2 separate regions of the Homo sapiens genome follow, and region 1 is linked to region 2. Evidence: fine-mapped expression QTL. A gene starts in region 2. The other region holds a variant in brackets. All regions are shown on one strand. Distances are between the middles of the regions. Region 1 overlaps SLCO2A1 (solute carrier organic anion transporter family member 2A1). Region 2 holds the start of SLCO2A1 (solute carrier organic anion transporter family member 2A1).

The links. PIP is the estimated chance that this variant, and not a neighbour inherited with it, causes the effect.
Region 1: its variant is fine-mapped to the expression of SLCO2A1 in rectum (CEDAR, PIP 0.95). The same link has a PIP of 0.9 or more in transverse colon.

The regions. Positions count from the first base shown.
Region 1 is chr3:133,931,810-133,940,135 of GRCh38, forward strand. It overlaps SLCO2A1 (solute carrier organic anion transporter family member 2A1), which reads right to left. Exons shown (of 14, transcript NM_005630.3): 12 at 6,620-6,684; 13 at 3,965-4,088; 14 at 892-3,021. The coding sequence ends at 2,904. Among named protein-coding and RNA genes, the nearest start is that of C3orf36, 6.2 kb to the left of the region's middle. The variant G/A (reference allele first, on the strand shown) is at 4,348.
Region 2 is chr3:134,026,350-134,034,675 of GRCh38, forward strand. SLCO2A1 (solute carrier organic anion transporter family member 2A1) reads right to left here and starts at 3,576. Exons shown (of 14, transcript NM_005630.3): 1 at 3,358-3,576. The coding sequence starts at 3,453. RefSeq lists an enhancer at 3,571-4,071.

The DNA.
Region 1 (8,326 bases), 95 kb before region 2:
ACATCAATCTCATGAGGGGGCCGTTAAAAGAGCCATTCCTGGGTCCCCATTAGACCCACAGAAGTAGACGCTGGGGCTGGGTGGAGGGTGTTGGGAATTTGCATCCTCTGTGAGTGTCACACACTCAAGAAAGTTTGTTAAGCTTTGCTCTAGAAGTGAAATGAAAGTGACACTATTATATTCCCTGCTGACAGCTGAAAAGAAAGATTTTCTTGGGAGTAGTAGTACTGGTTGTGACCATGTGATCAATTTGATTATGATATTAATTCTGTTTTGTGCCATGGACATAGCTGTTTGCGTCCAGCTCCGCTTCTGGATATAAACCCAAGAGCAGTGATGCGGCCTTCTCAGAGCCCAGCAGAACTTCACTGAAGGAATAAGCAGTGTCTGGTACTTGCCTGATACCAGGCTAATGGGTTGACAGTTGCATTACCTCTAATCTCCATGGCCATGGGCCCCTGGGGTCTATGTCATGAGCACTTCCTCTGTTTACAAGATGCAGGTGCCGGCAGGGCGCAGTGGCTCATGCCTGTAATCCCAACACTTTGGGAGGCTGAGGCGGGAGGATCACTTGAGGTCAGGAGTTTGAGACCAGCCTGGCCAACATGGTGAAACCCTGTCTCTACTAAAAGTACAAAAATTAGCCAGGTGTGGTGGCGCAGGCCTGTAATCCCAGTTACTCTGGAGGCTGAGGCAGGAGAATCGCTTGAACCAAGGAGGCAGAGGTTGCAGTGAGCCAAGATTGTGCCACTGCACTCCAGCCTGGGTGACAGAGCAAGACTCCATCTCAAAAATAAAATACAAATAAAAATAAAATAAAATTAAAAAGTGCAGGTGCTGTCTGTTCTCTGACAGATGTATATGACAACATAAATTCATGACCAAGTTACCTCAATAGCAAAATTAGAATATTTTAATAGTAATATAATAGAATAAAGGTTTGGGAGTGCAACCAATCTTCTAGAACCTGAAGGTTGGCATTCATTGTTCATAAACTCAGCTGAAGGCAGTGCCTTCCAAATGTGGTTAAATTGCCATGGGAAAGACCAGGGTTAGTTGCAGGGCATCATTTTCCAAGCAGAACCATTTCAAATGCTAAAACTGGCCCCTGAGGTTACATTGAGCCTCCCTTCCTGAGTGAGATGTTTGGAAATGAGGTGGCTTTGGAAATAAGCTTGTCTGTAACAGTGGTTTCCACAAAGACTTCAGTCTCATGGCATTGGACTTTGTTTGGACATTGACATAAATATTTTGGCATATCACCATATGAGGCTTTTCCAGAGGTGGCTTCCAGTATGCTTCTGGAGGGGGTCTTCCAAGAAGGGTGGCACTTAAGGGTCATGAATGGCCATGACCCATGCCCAGCTGTTCCAGAGGACATGGGGAGACAGAGCTGTCTGGCAAAGGGCCAGGTGCAGAGTCAGTCTGGGGGCCATGGATGGCATGGATAGTCAGGTCAGGATCCTTCATGCCAATCTGTGGCTTCTTGCTGTCCCCACCTCTCCTCCTGCTCTCACCAACTCCCACACCCCCAGTCCCACACTGCCCACCGAGCACACCCTGGGAGAAGGCCCTAATGTAAATGGAGGGAGGTGAGGTAAGAGCTGAGGGAAGCTCCATGGAGAACCCTGATTAGCATTGCTTTGCACAAAGTCGGTCTCCAATAAATATATTTGTTGATGAATGACCTCCTTCGTTGGCTTCTGTCTCTCAACATCTATCACGTAGCAGCTGTGTCTCTCAACCCAGGCACCCACCTCTCTGGAGGCAGTGAGAAGAGGCTGAGAAAATGGGAATGGTATGAGCATGTCTGAAACCAGGAAAGCCAACCTGACTGGCTGTTTTGTGGGCCGCAGCTTGCCATCCAGCTTGGTGACAGTGGACATCCACTCTGCTTCATCACTTGCTTTGCTGACATCTCTTCTGCCTCTCTACTCCTCGGAATACGGGCTGAAGTCCAGACAGGGAAGTGCATGTGAAGCCACCTCATCTGCTGCCAGGGAGATGTGGGAGGTTCTTCCCATTACTCTGAGATGAGGGGGTCTCGTCCCCACATTGAAGGGGTGGGAGGTTGGGCATCAGGACCTTTTCATAGGCCTTCCTTGGGTCTTCACTGTGTTGTAGCTTCCTCAGTTTGAAACGTACCCCAGAAAGACAGGGATAACATGTGAGGATCTAAGGACAGAAAGTCCAGGGTTCATATGGACAGCACTTAGATGACCCATCCTTGGGGTTTCTCAGTCCCTGCTCTGGTGCCTGCATGCAGGTAATGGGCAGAGACTGTACTTCCCAACATGGCAGCATCCAGAATGGCCTCTAGGTACAGGAAGTGAGGGTCTGAGGGGGAGGGAGCCAGCCCCTCCCGTAGTCTGTGCTGATGCCAAACCCAGGTGTGAAGGGGGTTACAGCCAGTCTCCCCAGTCTCCCAGTGGCTCTGGCTATTAATAACTCAGCCACTTCCTTCTTCCTTTCACCCCTGCCACTCTGCAGGGTGTGGGCAGTCAGCGGGAGAGTGGAGCTGCCTGGCAAGAAGGGCAGATACCCTTTTTCTCTCTCTGTTTAGGATTCCCCCCAGGGCTGGTGAGGGGCCTGGCTGCCTCAGTGGGCATCCTCAATGGAGGACTCAACACTGAAGTGAGCCTGGGCATCTGGGGGCCTCTTCCAAGGGGCCAGGGAAGACTCAGCCCCCCAGTTCTGGCCCACACAGCCCGGGTACACAGTGGCCCTTAGGAACTGTGGGGAGGACTCTGGGAGGAAGAGGTAGGGAAGGCAAATGAGGACTGGGGTTTTCTTTCTTGTTTAAAAATACAAAAAGGAAATGACGTGTTAACATTAGTGAGTATAGGCAGGTGTGGAAGAGTCAAGGTCCACTCTCTGGAGCAGGGCAGTGGCCCAGGGTGGGGTCAGATGAGGCCTGCCGCCTTCTGCACGTTGTACTCCTTGTTCTTCTTCACCCTCCAGCTGATGAAGCAAAGCAGCAGCATGCCCAGCGCCTTGTAGCCCATCTGCAGGCCCAGGTACCTGTGGGCAGGAGGAGGCAGGACTGGTGAGGGAGGGGGCTCTGCAGCCCACATCCCAGGGCCAGGACCACTGGGAAGAACCACATCATTCCCACGCTGGCCCGCGGAAGGTGTGGGCACCATCCAGGTGAGGATCACTTTCCTCATTTCTTTGACCCAAAAGGGAACAAAGCTGTAGGGAAGCAGGCAGGGAGTAGGCATGGGACTCTTAATCCAGGGCTCATCATCCCTCCACTGGCTCTTTCCAGAGGGCCAGAGGTGACCCAGCTGCCCCAGCCACCCCCAGACGGTCCTGACCTCCAAGCAGAGCCAGAAGGAGAGAGGCATCTTCTCACTGCCCTCTTGGCCTGTCCCTTTTGTGGTCTTCTCTGCCACTCCCATACCATTTCCAGCCCCTGCCCAGTCCCCTCAAGCCCACCTTCCTGTGGTTTCTGGGCCATATGACAACGGCAGCAGGTGAGGTGGCTGGAAGGGGTGCAGAACCCAATAGCACTGCAGCTGGACTTGGCCCATTGAGGCAGGTTGGTCCCCCTGCCCTGGACCTCTGCCAGGAGCCATGATGTGGCCCCCCTCTGTCTCTGAGCAGCAGGAGGCTGCCCCCAATTTTTCCACAGCCATGGCCTCTTCCTTGGGCTCCAGCCATCCCCGCCCCTTCTTTCTGCTGCTGCCCCTTCCAAAGGCTTTCGGGTCAGGGAAGTCCCTGGGTCTGCTGCCCCTTCCAAGGGCTTTCGGGTCATGGAAGTCCCTGGACATCTCCCTGTGAGCCCTGAAATGCCTGTTATAGTAGCCCCTGCTCCCTGTCCATGGCAGGGCCGCAGAGGTGGCCCTTCATGTTCTCTTCCTTGGAAGCCTGACAGCCCCCACAGTAGCCACTGGGCATATGACTACTGTCATCTCAAGCCCAGGGCCTGGCTCTGGGACACACATACATGATGGGCCCTCACCTGTCTCGGAGAGCATCGTTGTCATAGTAGGCGCAGGCCCCTCGCCTCCCCAAGCACAGCGAGTTCCACCGGATGCAGGAGTGGTCAATGGTGAGGCCATAGAGGGCTGGAGATGGCAGCCAGGCTGGAAGAGGGTTCAGAAAGCCCTGGTCAGGTGGAACTGCAGGCAGAGGTGTCCAGCAGGGGTGTGGGAGCCAAGTCCCCGACACAGTTCACATACATGAGAACGGCTCTGCCGTACCCATAGGACTCACAGTGACTCTGGAAAGCAGAATAGCTTTCAGTGAAGCCTGAATTTCTCTTTCACCAGAAGGCTTAGAAGACAAAAGGGACCTGGGCCATTCTTTCAAGTCAGAGTAAGTCACAGGGATCACCTTGATGCC[G/A]GCTCAGACATCCAACATAGTTCTCCTGAGATCAGCTCAGAGTGGAGATACACGGGCCTCCACTGTGTGGCAGGAGGCTCTCCAGGCATCGACTTCTCAGGTCCTCACACTGGCCCCGAGGTGTGGGTGCCCACTTTTTAGTGAAGAGGAAGGGGTTCTTGGCTGGGACACTGTAACACAGCCAAGAGAAGTCAAGGCCAGACTTGGAACCCTGGTTTATGGAGGTTCGAATCCCATGTACTTCCACCACACCAAGCTGCCCTATTGGATTAGACAACACCCCTCTGCAGACCTCCCAATACCTGGCTGCTCAAAGCTTCTGCTCTGGGACCCCGAACTTCCCAGCAGCTGAGTGTTAAGATTTGGCTTGGCAGGGGCTATGCCTTCCTGGCTGTCTAATATTCCGGATGCCACACTACCTGTGGGTAGCGTACCACTAGCTACAGCTCTAGGCAGTTACTGGACTGCGGAGGGCTTGTCCAGGATTTACACCAAGGCTGGCCCATCCCATTCTCAGCACCACAGTGCTGACAACAGCCTCCCAGACTTTGTTTAGGGCCCTGTGAGCAGCTGCTTCCAGAAGAAAGACAGACAATGCTCCACTTGTGGCACTGCCCACAAGTGGGAAACTCTAAGAAGAAGCCTCTCTACTCAGATCCTGCTCACTCTCAAGTCTCCAGGTGAACAGGGGGATGAAAACTGGCCAGAGTGATATATGACACTTCCTTATGTAGAAGCAAAGTCCGGAAACATTGTCAACCCAATCCCAATGTGTAATTTAAAACCTGTAATAGGAAGTCCTTTTTTTTACCCAAGAGTGGATTGTGTTCTTGGGTGATAAATGGAACCCCTCCAGGCCTGGGTTTTCTCATTGTGGTCCCACATTGAGTTATCTGAGCTCAAATGGAAAAGCAAAAGCAGCGAGTGCTTCAAGCAGTGCGAGAGAGTCCGAGAGAGTCCTTGTTTTCAAGGTCATTTTCAAGGTTGCTGGAGGAAGCAGGAAAGGGCTCTTTAGAGCCTATCCTAGGTGCTGGATGGGCTGAGAGGAATGTGAGGTCTCTTTCCCAGCAGAAGTGTTAGAGAAAGTTAAGTTATAAATGAAAATAAGGAGCTCTGATGACAGCAGAGCCTCTGCTGGGAGGACAGGTAGATCCTGCCGCCCTGCTTCCTCTGTGTTTATAATGCAGGCAGCAGGAGCAGGGTCTGAAGGGGCTCTGCAGGGACTAGAGGAACAAGAAATCCCACTGAAAAAGCTGGTTCATTCCCATCATCCAAACACTTCTCCCAGCCTGGGACTGGATTGGGCTCAGCAAGGGCTCCCGCTCACCTGGCCCCAGTAGAGACATCACCAATACATCTCAAAATGGGGATGGAAGCCACTGCAGGGCGCGGTGTTGACCTGGCCCCTGGGTAATGAGGCACAGTGGGCTATACATTATTTCAGGATTTATAGTCAGAAACGACACCTTATAGTAACTGAAGTTCCTCTTGCTGGAGTCTCCATATTCCCCTCTGTAGTTTGCACCCTTAATTAACACATCCTCAGTTCAATTAGGTCCCTTTACTACTGTGTGCCTGTCATTACAAGGATCTCTCTATTGCTGCCTTGTGTTAAGTCTAGTGCACAGATATGTCAAGAAGGAACAGCCAGTGTGAGCAGTTCAGGAATGGGCCTGCATTGTGCCCCCAGCCCTCAGCCCAGGCACCCCGGGAGAGCACTCCTGCTGCCTCAAGCAGCTCGCTCTCCCCTGGGGCACTGCTGATCACTTGTGCACAGCTCCATTCCTCTGGTGGGCTCTGGACTGCTTGAGGGCAGGCAGGACTCACCAGCAGAGGACCCCACAGGGAAGAAACTTTTGCTAAATAGTTTTAGGAGGAGTGAATTTTGTAAAATGGAAAGGAAGCCAGGGCTGGGCTCAGCCGCTGCTCTGGCTTGGCAGGAATGCAAAGTTTTGTTCCTACAGTGAGTTTTGTGAGAAGGATTTAAAAATACCTGCCTTTAACACTCTATTAGGTATTCTCAGCTGTGTTCACTTTTCATTTTTCTTACATAACTTAGTTAGGAATGAATGCCATAGATGGAGTCTTTCCTAACCTCAAGCAATCTGGGAAACCGTCCACATGGATTTTGGCATCTGCTGTTGATTATGCACAGCTTCTCTTCGCCATGGAGATGAGATGGTGCTTCCTCCATCGCTACCCTGCACCCATAGCCTTCAGATGCCCCATCGCCTGGGGCCACTTCTTGGGAAGAGGGGTCTTAGACACTTACCCAGCAAGCGCATCAACAAGAACTGCACCCCGATGGCAAATGACTTTTCCTCCTGGTTCACCACACTGAAAAGACAGACAGGAAATCAGCAGTGGGAGGATTCAGGGCTGCACGATCCCTTGGGTAAGGGGCAGCCAGCCTCAGAGCAGGTCAGAACCAGCCCTGATGTGGCCTGACGAGCCCTCTGGTGACCGGGTTCACCTGGGCTGAATGCTCTAGTTCTTTACATCAGTGGCCTCAAAGCGTGGTCCCTGGATCATCAGCATCCCCTGGGAACTTGTTAGATATGCAGATTTTCAGGCCCACCCCAGACTTACTGAGTCGGAAAGTCTGGGGATGGGGCCCAGCAATCTGTATTTTACCTCCAGGAGATTCTGATGCATCACTGAGAACCACCAGTCTGTGTGATTTTCAGGGCTGCCCAGAGCCCCCTTCAAGAAGCAGAGGGCAGTAGAGGCTAGGAGTGGAGAGAAGGATGCTGTGGGTGTGTTGATAGCAGCAGGTCTGAACAACTCCCACAGAATGTCTTATAACAGTAAAAGACAGCCCTGCTGCAAAGTGTAATTAGGGCCCTTGGGCTGCAGGCTTCTGTGCACAGCTAAAAGAATTCCCTACCCCAGGCTAGCTCTGTGGGTGTGTGCATACAACTCCACCCTCAGAAAGGTCCCATGTTTGGCTTAATGCTCTGCTGCAGCTGTCTGGAAATTCTTAATTTCTGAGCCAGGGGCTTTACATTTTCATTTGCAATAGGTCCTGCAAATTAGGTAGCTGGTCCTGCCCCTAACCATCTTCCTTCAAGAGAGGAAAATGTGTTTGGCTGAGGAAGGAGATTCAGAGAGAGCAGGGGACGGCCCTGCCATCCCAGCTGGGGAGTGGAGAGAGGGAGGACACCTCCACACAAGGTGGGGAGCCAGCAGCTGGCCAGCAGAGGCACCTGATGAGTGACTTGACTCCAGGACTCTCTGTGCTCTGAGCACACACACTCCCGGTGGGTGCTTGTCAGGAAGAGCCTTCAGTGCTAGGGGACAGTGAGGAAGGGAGCTCAGAAGTAATCCCCAGGCCTCTACCTGTGGTTTGTTTCACCACCACCATCACAGTTCTGCTAGCAAACTGGAAAGGGACCTTTGCCCAGTCCCCCTGAGGGATGGCCCAGTGAGACAAATACTCATTGGGGCAGGGGAAGAGGCACCCCTTGGGACCCCCACAATGCAAAGTGTCTCAAATCCTGTTGTGTCTACAGATCCCTCCAGTGGTCCAGTTCATAATAGATACCTGCCTTGTCTTGGCCCTTGCCCTGGGCAGACTCCCCTAGATTCTCAATGAAACGGGACTTGGCCACCCCAATTTGGCTTTTGATTGAGATCTTGGGCCCCTTCTAGTCTCTGTCCCATGTGGCCCTGAATGAAAGCTGACCTTCTGACCTCTCTTTCTCCTTCCACGTTTTCAGCTAGCCTTCACTTCCAGCTTGTGTTCCCATGGCTAATTGGGGGCCAGGACTCATATAAATAATGCTTGGGTCACCTACAAAGTCATCTTTTTTTTTTTTTTTTTTTTTCGGAGACAGAGTCTCATTCTGTCACCCAGGCTGGAGTGCAGTGGCTCAGTCTTGGCTCACTGCAACCTCCACTTCCCAGGTTCAACCAATTCTCCTGCCTCAGCCTCCCAAGTAGCTGGGACTACAGGCGCCCATCACCATGCCCGGCTAAC
Region 2 (8,326 bases):
TACTAGATACGTAGGCATAGAGCTTACGCCAAATTACCTGACCAGTAGGCAGGTAGTTTTGTTATTGGCACTATTAAACCATCTTTTTCCTACTGCCCATAAAAACAGGCGAACTCCTGGGCTTCCCTGTCTATGCTTCCCGCGAAAAGAGAAGCATAGCTATAGGAAATTGAAAAAATGATAAATGGCCCCCTGAGAAAATCATACAATATTATAGGCCTGCTAGGCACAAGACGGCTTGTGAGGATACCAGACCCCCATTTACGTGATCAACTGAATCATACGGTTACAAGCTGTCTTAAAAATAATCACTAATAAAACCGGCAGAGCCTTGACTATTCTGGCCCAGCAAGAAACTCAGATGAGAAATGCTACCTATCAAAATAGATTAGCTCTTGACTACTTGCTAGCAGCTGAAGGAGAGGTCTGTAGGAAATTTAACCTTTCTAATTGCTGCCTACATATAGATAATCAAGGGCAAGTAGTTGAAGACACAGTTAAGAGATATGACAAAACTGGCACATGTGCCTGTGCAAGTGTGGCATGGATTTGATCCTGGGGCCATGTTTAGAAAATGGTTCCCAGCGCTAAGAGAATTTAAAACTCTAATAATAAGAGTTATAATAGTAATAGGAACCTGCTTACTGCTCCCTTGTTTGCTACCTATACTTCTTCAAATGATAAAAAGCTTCATCGCTACCTTAGTTCACCAAAAAGGTTCAGCACAAGTGTACTATATGAATCACTATCGATCTGTCTTGCAAGAAGACACAGGTAGTAAAAATGAAAGTGAGAACTCCCACTATTGAGTGAGAATCTCAAAGGAGGGGAATAAGGGAGGAGACCACCCCTCATATTGTCTTATGCCCAATTTCTGCCTCCAAAGAAAGAAAAAGTAAAAACTAAAAGGCAGAAATGAAATCCACAAGCAGACAGCCCGGAGCCGCACCCTAGCGCTGGTAGTTAAAGATCGACCCCTGACCTAATCGGTTATGTTATCTATAGATTACAGACATTGTACAGAAAAGCACTGTGAAAATCCCTATTCTGTTTTGTTCCGATCTAATTACTGGTGCATGCAGCCCCCAGTCACGTACCCACTGTTTGCTCAATCGATCACGACCCTCTCAGGTGCACCCCCTTAGAGTTGTGAGCCCTTAAAAAGGACAGGAATTGCTCACTCGGGGAGCTCAGCTCTTGAGACAGCAGTCTTGCTGATGCCCCCGGCTGAATAAACCCCTTCCTTCTTTAACTCAGTGTCTGAGGAGTTTTGTCTGTGGCTCGTCCTGCTACACCACCATGTCATACATGTCCCAAGATATGTGCAACCCATCCCCCACTGCAAAGTGGCAGGGCTATTACAAGCACTCTCATTGGGAGGAAATATCCCTTCAAATAGCAGAGCTCCCAGTTATTGCCCCAGGAGGGAAAGGTGCAAGTGACTTTAACTGATGGAATTTGAGATTCAAGATTTACCTTAAGCTATCCAACCTCGTACCTGGTTTCAGGCTGATAAGTGGAGTTAAATGGAAGTCCTCCAAACTCTGGTCTTGCAATTAGTATGGATCAAAGGAGGTGATGACTAACAGAATCTCATTTTTAGAGTCAAGAAAAACTCTTAGCCAGTATGAGTACTTAACTCCTTTAGGAGGCCAATTGGCCTGAGCCCAGCCCTCAGGTACGTGTGGTTAAATCATCAACACATGAGAAATCATCTTATTTATATAGATCTCCAAATAAATTGCTGCCATAAACATTTATTTTAGGGAACCAGGGTGGGTCTAAACGGATCAGTCTCATTCAGCTGTACCCTCACTGTCAGGAATCTGTTCTGGACACCCGTCCCTCCTGCCCTTCTTGGTGAAAATGAAGTGAGGTTGCCCCACCCTGGTTCCTGCAGAGGCCCCTTTCTTTACACCATCTAATCCTAGTCCCTACCCTTTCATCTCAATTCCTAATTTATAAATACCAAAGGTTCCAAAATTCCTGATGAAATTTCTCCAAAATGGTGGAACCAAAACTGCGCACAACATTTCCATCCAGGTCTGGCCAAAAATGAGGAGATTTGGAGATTATTTTAAGCTATCTCAAAATTTCTGTTGCTTATCCATATACAACTACAAAATCAATTCAGCCTGTATTTATTGCGGTGCGGAAAGAGCAGAAGCAGGAGTGGAGATCCCAGCTGAGTAAGTATGCAGGTGAGATCCACTCTGACCTCCAGATCCCTTTCTGTTGGACACATATAACCAGTCCACGGACACCCCCATCATCCCTTTGTGTAATCTGGCTTCCCCTTAATTGCACCACCGGAGGCTTTACTCAGTCCCATCTGACTGTATGTTTGTGGGAAACAACCTCTCTACACCATGATCCCACCCTGACCAGAAGGGGCCTTGATGCAGTCTCTGCAGTCTCCCACATCCTCACCGCAGCAGCTTTGGCCTCTCAGGAGGTATCTTCCATTGTTACTTCTGCCTAGGCAGAACGGGCAAAAGAGCCCGAGTGCGGATTGAACCATTCCAGGTCCTCCTGGACCTGTGAGGGAGTGGAAAGCATTTCCGACCCCATGGGAAAGGTGCTCTCATCCTAACAGCTGCCAACACCCTATCTTCTCACCCGCTCCCCATAACTTGCCTGGTGAGTGGACCTGCTTAGACCTTACTGAACCGTGAGAGCTGTGACCTTCCTGGGGCCATTTCCAGACCAGGGAAGCCAATCTGAGCACGCGGGTTGGTTGCCAGCCTGGGGAAGCCGCCCGCTGAGAGGGAATTCTAAACATAACTGCGAGCGGCACAGCCAGGTAGCAGAGCCCCCCGCCCCCGTTGGCGGGAGAAGAAAGCCTGGGGAAGGAGAACATCCCTTAGGCCACCCACCCCAGGACGAGGGGGCTCGGACGAGACACAGTCTGTCCCCCAAAGCGCGGGGGGTCCCCCTGGCACCTCCAAGCCCATCCCATTGACGAAGTAACCGCCCGCTGGAGGCCGAAAAAGCGTTCCTCGAGATGATCTTTTTCAATCATCGAGGACAATTCTCTCGCTTATAACTCTGCCTGGAGTTGTCCGAGTAAGCGGTAAGCAGGTACTTCCACTGTCCCATTACTTAGTCCGATGAAGGCGTGTGAACACACACACACACACTCGCACGCACACACACACGCTCACACACACACACGCTCACACACACACTCGCACACACACGCCCAGCACGCGTCGCCCGGGGATGAGATCGGAGCGCGGCACAGGAGGGAGCCCGGGGCTCCCGGAGCCTCCTGGCTCCGGCAGACAGAAGCGGGTGCCCAGCCGAAGGTGCGCCAGGCGCGGCTCCGGCCCGGAAGACCCCGCGGACTCCGCTCACCTTAATGTTGCCGAAGACCGAGCGGGCACAGCGGCCGGCTCGGCTAGTAGAGGTGTCGCTGCCCTGGGACGCGCCGAGCTTGGGCAGGAGCCCCATGGCTGCGGGCGGCTGGCCGGGCGCGGAGTGGCGCGGGGTCGGGGCGCCTCGGGCTGGAGCGGCCGGGCGGGTGAGAGGCGACCGCGGCGGCAGTGGCCGGAGGAGATTCGCGGAGCGGAGACTGAGCCAGCGAGTGCGCGCCTAGAAGTTTTTATAAGTGGCCGCCGCCGATGATGAAACGCGCTCTCCCTCCTCCCTCTTTTCCTCGGGTGTCAAAGGCGCTACGAGCCCCCGCCCCGCCGCCGCCGCCGCCGCCGCCCCCTCAGACAGGTGTGACGCCGCAGCGACCCGCGAGGCTTGACTGCCCCGAGAAGATCCCGCCTGCCGGGAGGCGGAGAGGGAGGGAAGGAGGTGGCGGGCCCGGGGAGGGGAGGTGAGGGCTGTGCGGGGGCAGGAGGTTGCAAGGGGGTGGAGGTTCCTGGGGACTGGCGAAGAGAGGGTGGGCGAAGCGAAGGTGGGTGAGTGGAGGGGATGGAGAAAGAGGTTGGCAGGGCTGGGGGGCAGGAAGGCTGGGATATGAGGGTGCCCGAGGCGGGCGCTGGAGGGGCCAACGTGAGCCGGGGGTGGAGGGGAGCCCCAGCACCCCTCCCGACGTTCTTGGGGAGATTTACGGAGCCAGTCTCTGCTTGTTTGCACTCGCAGAAAACCTGGGCCCTCAGTTCCGGTGATGGCTCTGAGACTCGCTGCAGCTCTGTTTGTGTTGAGGACTGATTTATATTTAAACTGCTCTTTGCGCTGGAGAGGGGGCTGGGTAACAAGGTGAAAAGGTGGGGGCTGGGCCCGAAGTCTCTGGACCTGAGCCAAGGTAAACTGCAGGGGCTGTCAAGTGTCAGCATGGCTGGGTCTGGCCTGGGGTGCTGGGGGGAGGGGTAGAGGGGGTGGGGGGGGTGTGGACAAACAGGACGCACCCCACTGACCTCCTTCTCAGTGCTGGAATGAATAGTGGGTTTATTTTTTCCCCAAGATTTTCTACTAACAGGATTCCAAGCGCCGAGAAGAGACAGTGAGGCTTCTCAAGGGAAGGATAAGAAGGTTCTTCCAAAAGCAGCTGCAGTGAGGAATCCAGCTCTGGAGGCATTTTTCCAGCTCCCTCACTTCTGTAGTCCCGTGCAGAGGGAACCTCTCCAAGCCCACCCCAAACCCAGGAAAAGATGCCGTCAATATCCAGGAGGCTTTGGCTAAGACAAAGGCCACAGGATAGATAGACCACATAGGCTTCTTATTCTACCCAAGACCTGATACCTTTCTGGGCCTGGTCTGGCCTGGCCTGGGCTTGGGGGCTTCTATCCACCTGCGACCCAAGTTCCCTGGACACGGCAGCATTCCAAAGATGTTGAACAGTGGGCAGCCTCTGGCCTCTTCACTCAGCCACAGAGCGAGGTACATCCTGACAGGCTTTCCACAGCACTGTAGCAGCCCCAGCCCCAGCCCCAGAGGAGGCATGAATTCCAGGTCCCATCTGTCCACTGGGAGAACATGGCACACAAGGACAGGTACCAGCATGGAGCACTTGGTGTGTGCTGGGCATACCAGGCCCTCTGCTGAGCACCCACATGCATGATTTCATGAAGCCCCAACGTTAGCCCTACAGGTATAGGTACTGATGGAGTCTGGACTCCACAAACAAGGATGCTAGAGCAGTCGGCTAAGAAAGCTGTCTGAAAGCCACACAGCTAGCAAGTGGTGGAGCTGGACCCTGAATTCAGCCTTGTCTGACTCCTAAGCCCAGACTTGAAGCACTATGCCTTCTGATAAGTTGTCTAGTCCAACAGCCCCATTTTGCAAGTTGAACCAAACAGGGACCAGAAAACCCCCAGGCCAAGGTCACAGACACCTTAGGGCTACCATGCCTGGAGCTTCTTTCTCAAACCCTGAGGCCTCACTGTGATCCTCTGGTAGAACCCCTGGGAGGATCAGCCTCTCCAGCCCTCACCTAGTCCTGTTCCATTAACCTGGCCCTCTGCCTCCCGTCAGCGCCAGCATCATCTCCAAAGGAAAAGCCTATTCAGAAATGCTCACAGATGCTTATCTTCCTTCATTGACCTTTACTGGGTGGAGTTCAGCTAAATGTAATGGAGAGCCAACCAAAATGACTTAAATGAGATTTATTTGTCTCTCAATAATTAGAAGTCTGCTAGTAGGTAGTCCAGGGGTCATGACCTAGGCCCTTCAAGATTCCTTAGCCTGTGGTTCCCATCCCTGTGGCTGGCTCATTGTCACAAGATGGCTGCTCCATCTCCAGCCTCCTCTCCTAATTCCAGGAAAGATGTGGAAGACAGGAAACAGGAAGGGGCCATGCTTACATCAAGGGAGCAAATCTCTCCCTTGCGTGCACAGTTGCTTTTACTTAAGTCTTCTTGGCCAAACCTGGGTCACATAGCTACCCCCTGCAAAGGATGCTAAGAAGTGTAATTAACACTATTGCTGTCCTCTGAACAAAATTGGGGTTTTATTAGGGAAAAAGGGAGAAATAATATTGTGTTTTACATTTTCAACACCTACACATGGAGTAACCCATTTCCTTTCAAGAGCACTCCTAGAGTCGGTCTCCCAGACTTTCCATCCTTAAATTTCAGTAAATATTTCCTAGCACTGAAAAAATACAAAAAATAGGCTGGGCACGGTGGCTCATGCCTCTAATCCCAGCACTTGAGGAGGCTGAGGCGGGCGGATCACTTGAGGTCAGGAGATTGAGACCATCCCGGCCAACATGGTGAAACCCCTTCTCTACTAAAAATACAAAATTAGCCAGGCATGGTGGCAGGTGTCTGTAGTCCCAGCTGCTTGGGAGGCTGAAGCAGGAGAATTGCTTGAACCTGGGAGGCAGAGGCTGCAGTGAGCCAAGGTCGTGCCAGTGCACTCCAGCCTGGGCTACAGAGCAAGACTCTGTCTCAAATAAATAAATAAATAAATAAATAAATAAATAAATAAATAAATAAATTTTAAAAAAAGCTAAACCACAAGAACATCTCCTGACCTCAAAGACTCTATGGTCTCAGGGTGGGAAACAAGAAGAGAAAGTGTGGCTGTGATGTAGGAAGAAAGCTATTGTGCACAGCTGCTATGGGAGCATAGAAGTGGAGCCCTAATGCACCTTGGACAGCAGGAAGACTTCTAGGAGGAGGCGACTGTCAAGCTGAGCCCTAAGAACTAGTAGGATTGAGAGGATTAGGGTAAAGAGGGTAAACCTACTCCATGGTTTCAGTCTGGCTGGAGCTCAAGACCAAGCGCAGTGGGTATGTGTGTGTGAAGCAAAGAGGCTGGGAGTTTAGGTTTTCTCCCCAGCACAATGGGGAGCCGTTAAAGGCTTCTAACCAAGGGTGACCTGGGCTAATTTGCATTTCACATGGACCTCTCTGGCAGCCAGAGTGGAATTAGGTAGTCTGTGGAAGGAATCCCAGGAGCTATGATAAAAGCTGGCATGGCAGCAGTGGGATGGTGGTAGGAAGGAGAGAAAAGCTTAAGAAATGTCAAAGCGAGGTGGCACCCACATATCAGTGAGAGGAGAGATGTTAGTGATGACTCCCAGGATCTGGCTTGGGCAACTAGCGTTGGTGATGCCCACTCCTGACAGAGGGGGCCCAGAAGGAGCAGTCACTATTGAAGGAAGCCAGTGAGTATCCTGGTCACATTTGAAATTCAAATTTCCCAGACTATACCCAAGTAAAGATCTTCAGGAGTCAGATGGGTATATGGGTCCAGCACTCAGGGTGGACACTGGGCTAGAGATATGGGCTTGGAAATCCCACGTGGAGGTGGTGGTTAAGCCTCAAGAAGGGATGAGTCTCCTAGGGAGACTGTGTTGATGAGAAGTAGGTCCAGGATGGGCCACAGCAATATCAAGGTGGCACAAGGGACGGAGCCAGAGTGGAGGAAAGTAAACCAGGGGAGGAGGTGTTGATAGAGCTGAGGGTACTCTTTCAAAATGGAGGAGGGCGGGCACATGGCCAGGCTGCTGGGGAGGCAAGAGAAGGCCTGAGGAGTGGCCACCAGGCTGGCAACGCTGGCATTGAGGAACTTGGCAAGAGTGTCTGCAGTGGGTGATGTGGGCAGGAGGAACTGGATAGGAGAAAATGCAAATAGAACCCATCGACAACTTTCTCAAGGTTGCGGAGGGAAGGAAAAAGACAGGGAGCAGCTGAGCAGCTACGGGCTCTCCTGTCTGCCTGAATTGTCTCCAGCTGTCTTGGGCCTCCTCCTGGGGCAGTTAAATTCATTCCCACCTCTGGTTTTTGCTCATGCTATTCCCCTGCCTGCACTGCCAGCCTCACAATGCTTGGATTCTACTCTTCAAGGAGTGGTTCACATTATTATTACACGAACTTGTAGTCAGACAAAATTGCTGACTACCTTCGATAGCTTGCTTAACCCATTGGATCTGCGGTGACTTCTCTTCGTGATGAGCTGTTATGAAGTGCATATGAGATGATGCATGGAATGCCTGGAGCATAGTGAGGTCTCAATGCTGGGAAGCTGCTCTTGCTGTGGGGGTTGGTGGTTTGATGTTAGTAAACTGTGCTCTAGGTCTCTTCCTTCAACTCAGCTGTGGGCTCTTCAAGGGCAAAGGTTCTGTGTCAACTCTCTTTATATCCCCCATTTGACCTAACATATCCCATTGCTCAAAAATGTTTATTAAGTGCTATTAAGCAGAAATAAATTCTAAAAGGGCCCTCGTGACTGGAAAAGGCCTCATTGCTCCTAGACCTCCATGCCATTGTTCTCTCTGCCCAAACCCCGCTCCTTCTGCCCCCTGAAGGCCTCTGGGTTGTCTCTGGGTCTCAGCCTTGTCTCTTCTCACCACTGGCTGGCCATGAACTTGGTGGGCCACACTGCCCACTCCTGCAGCAGCTGATGAAGCTTCCTTGGCAATTTA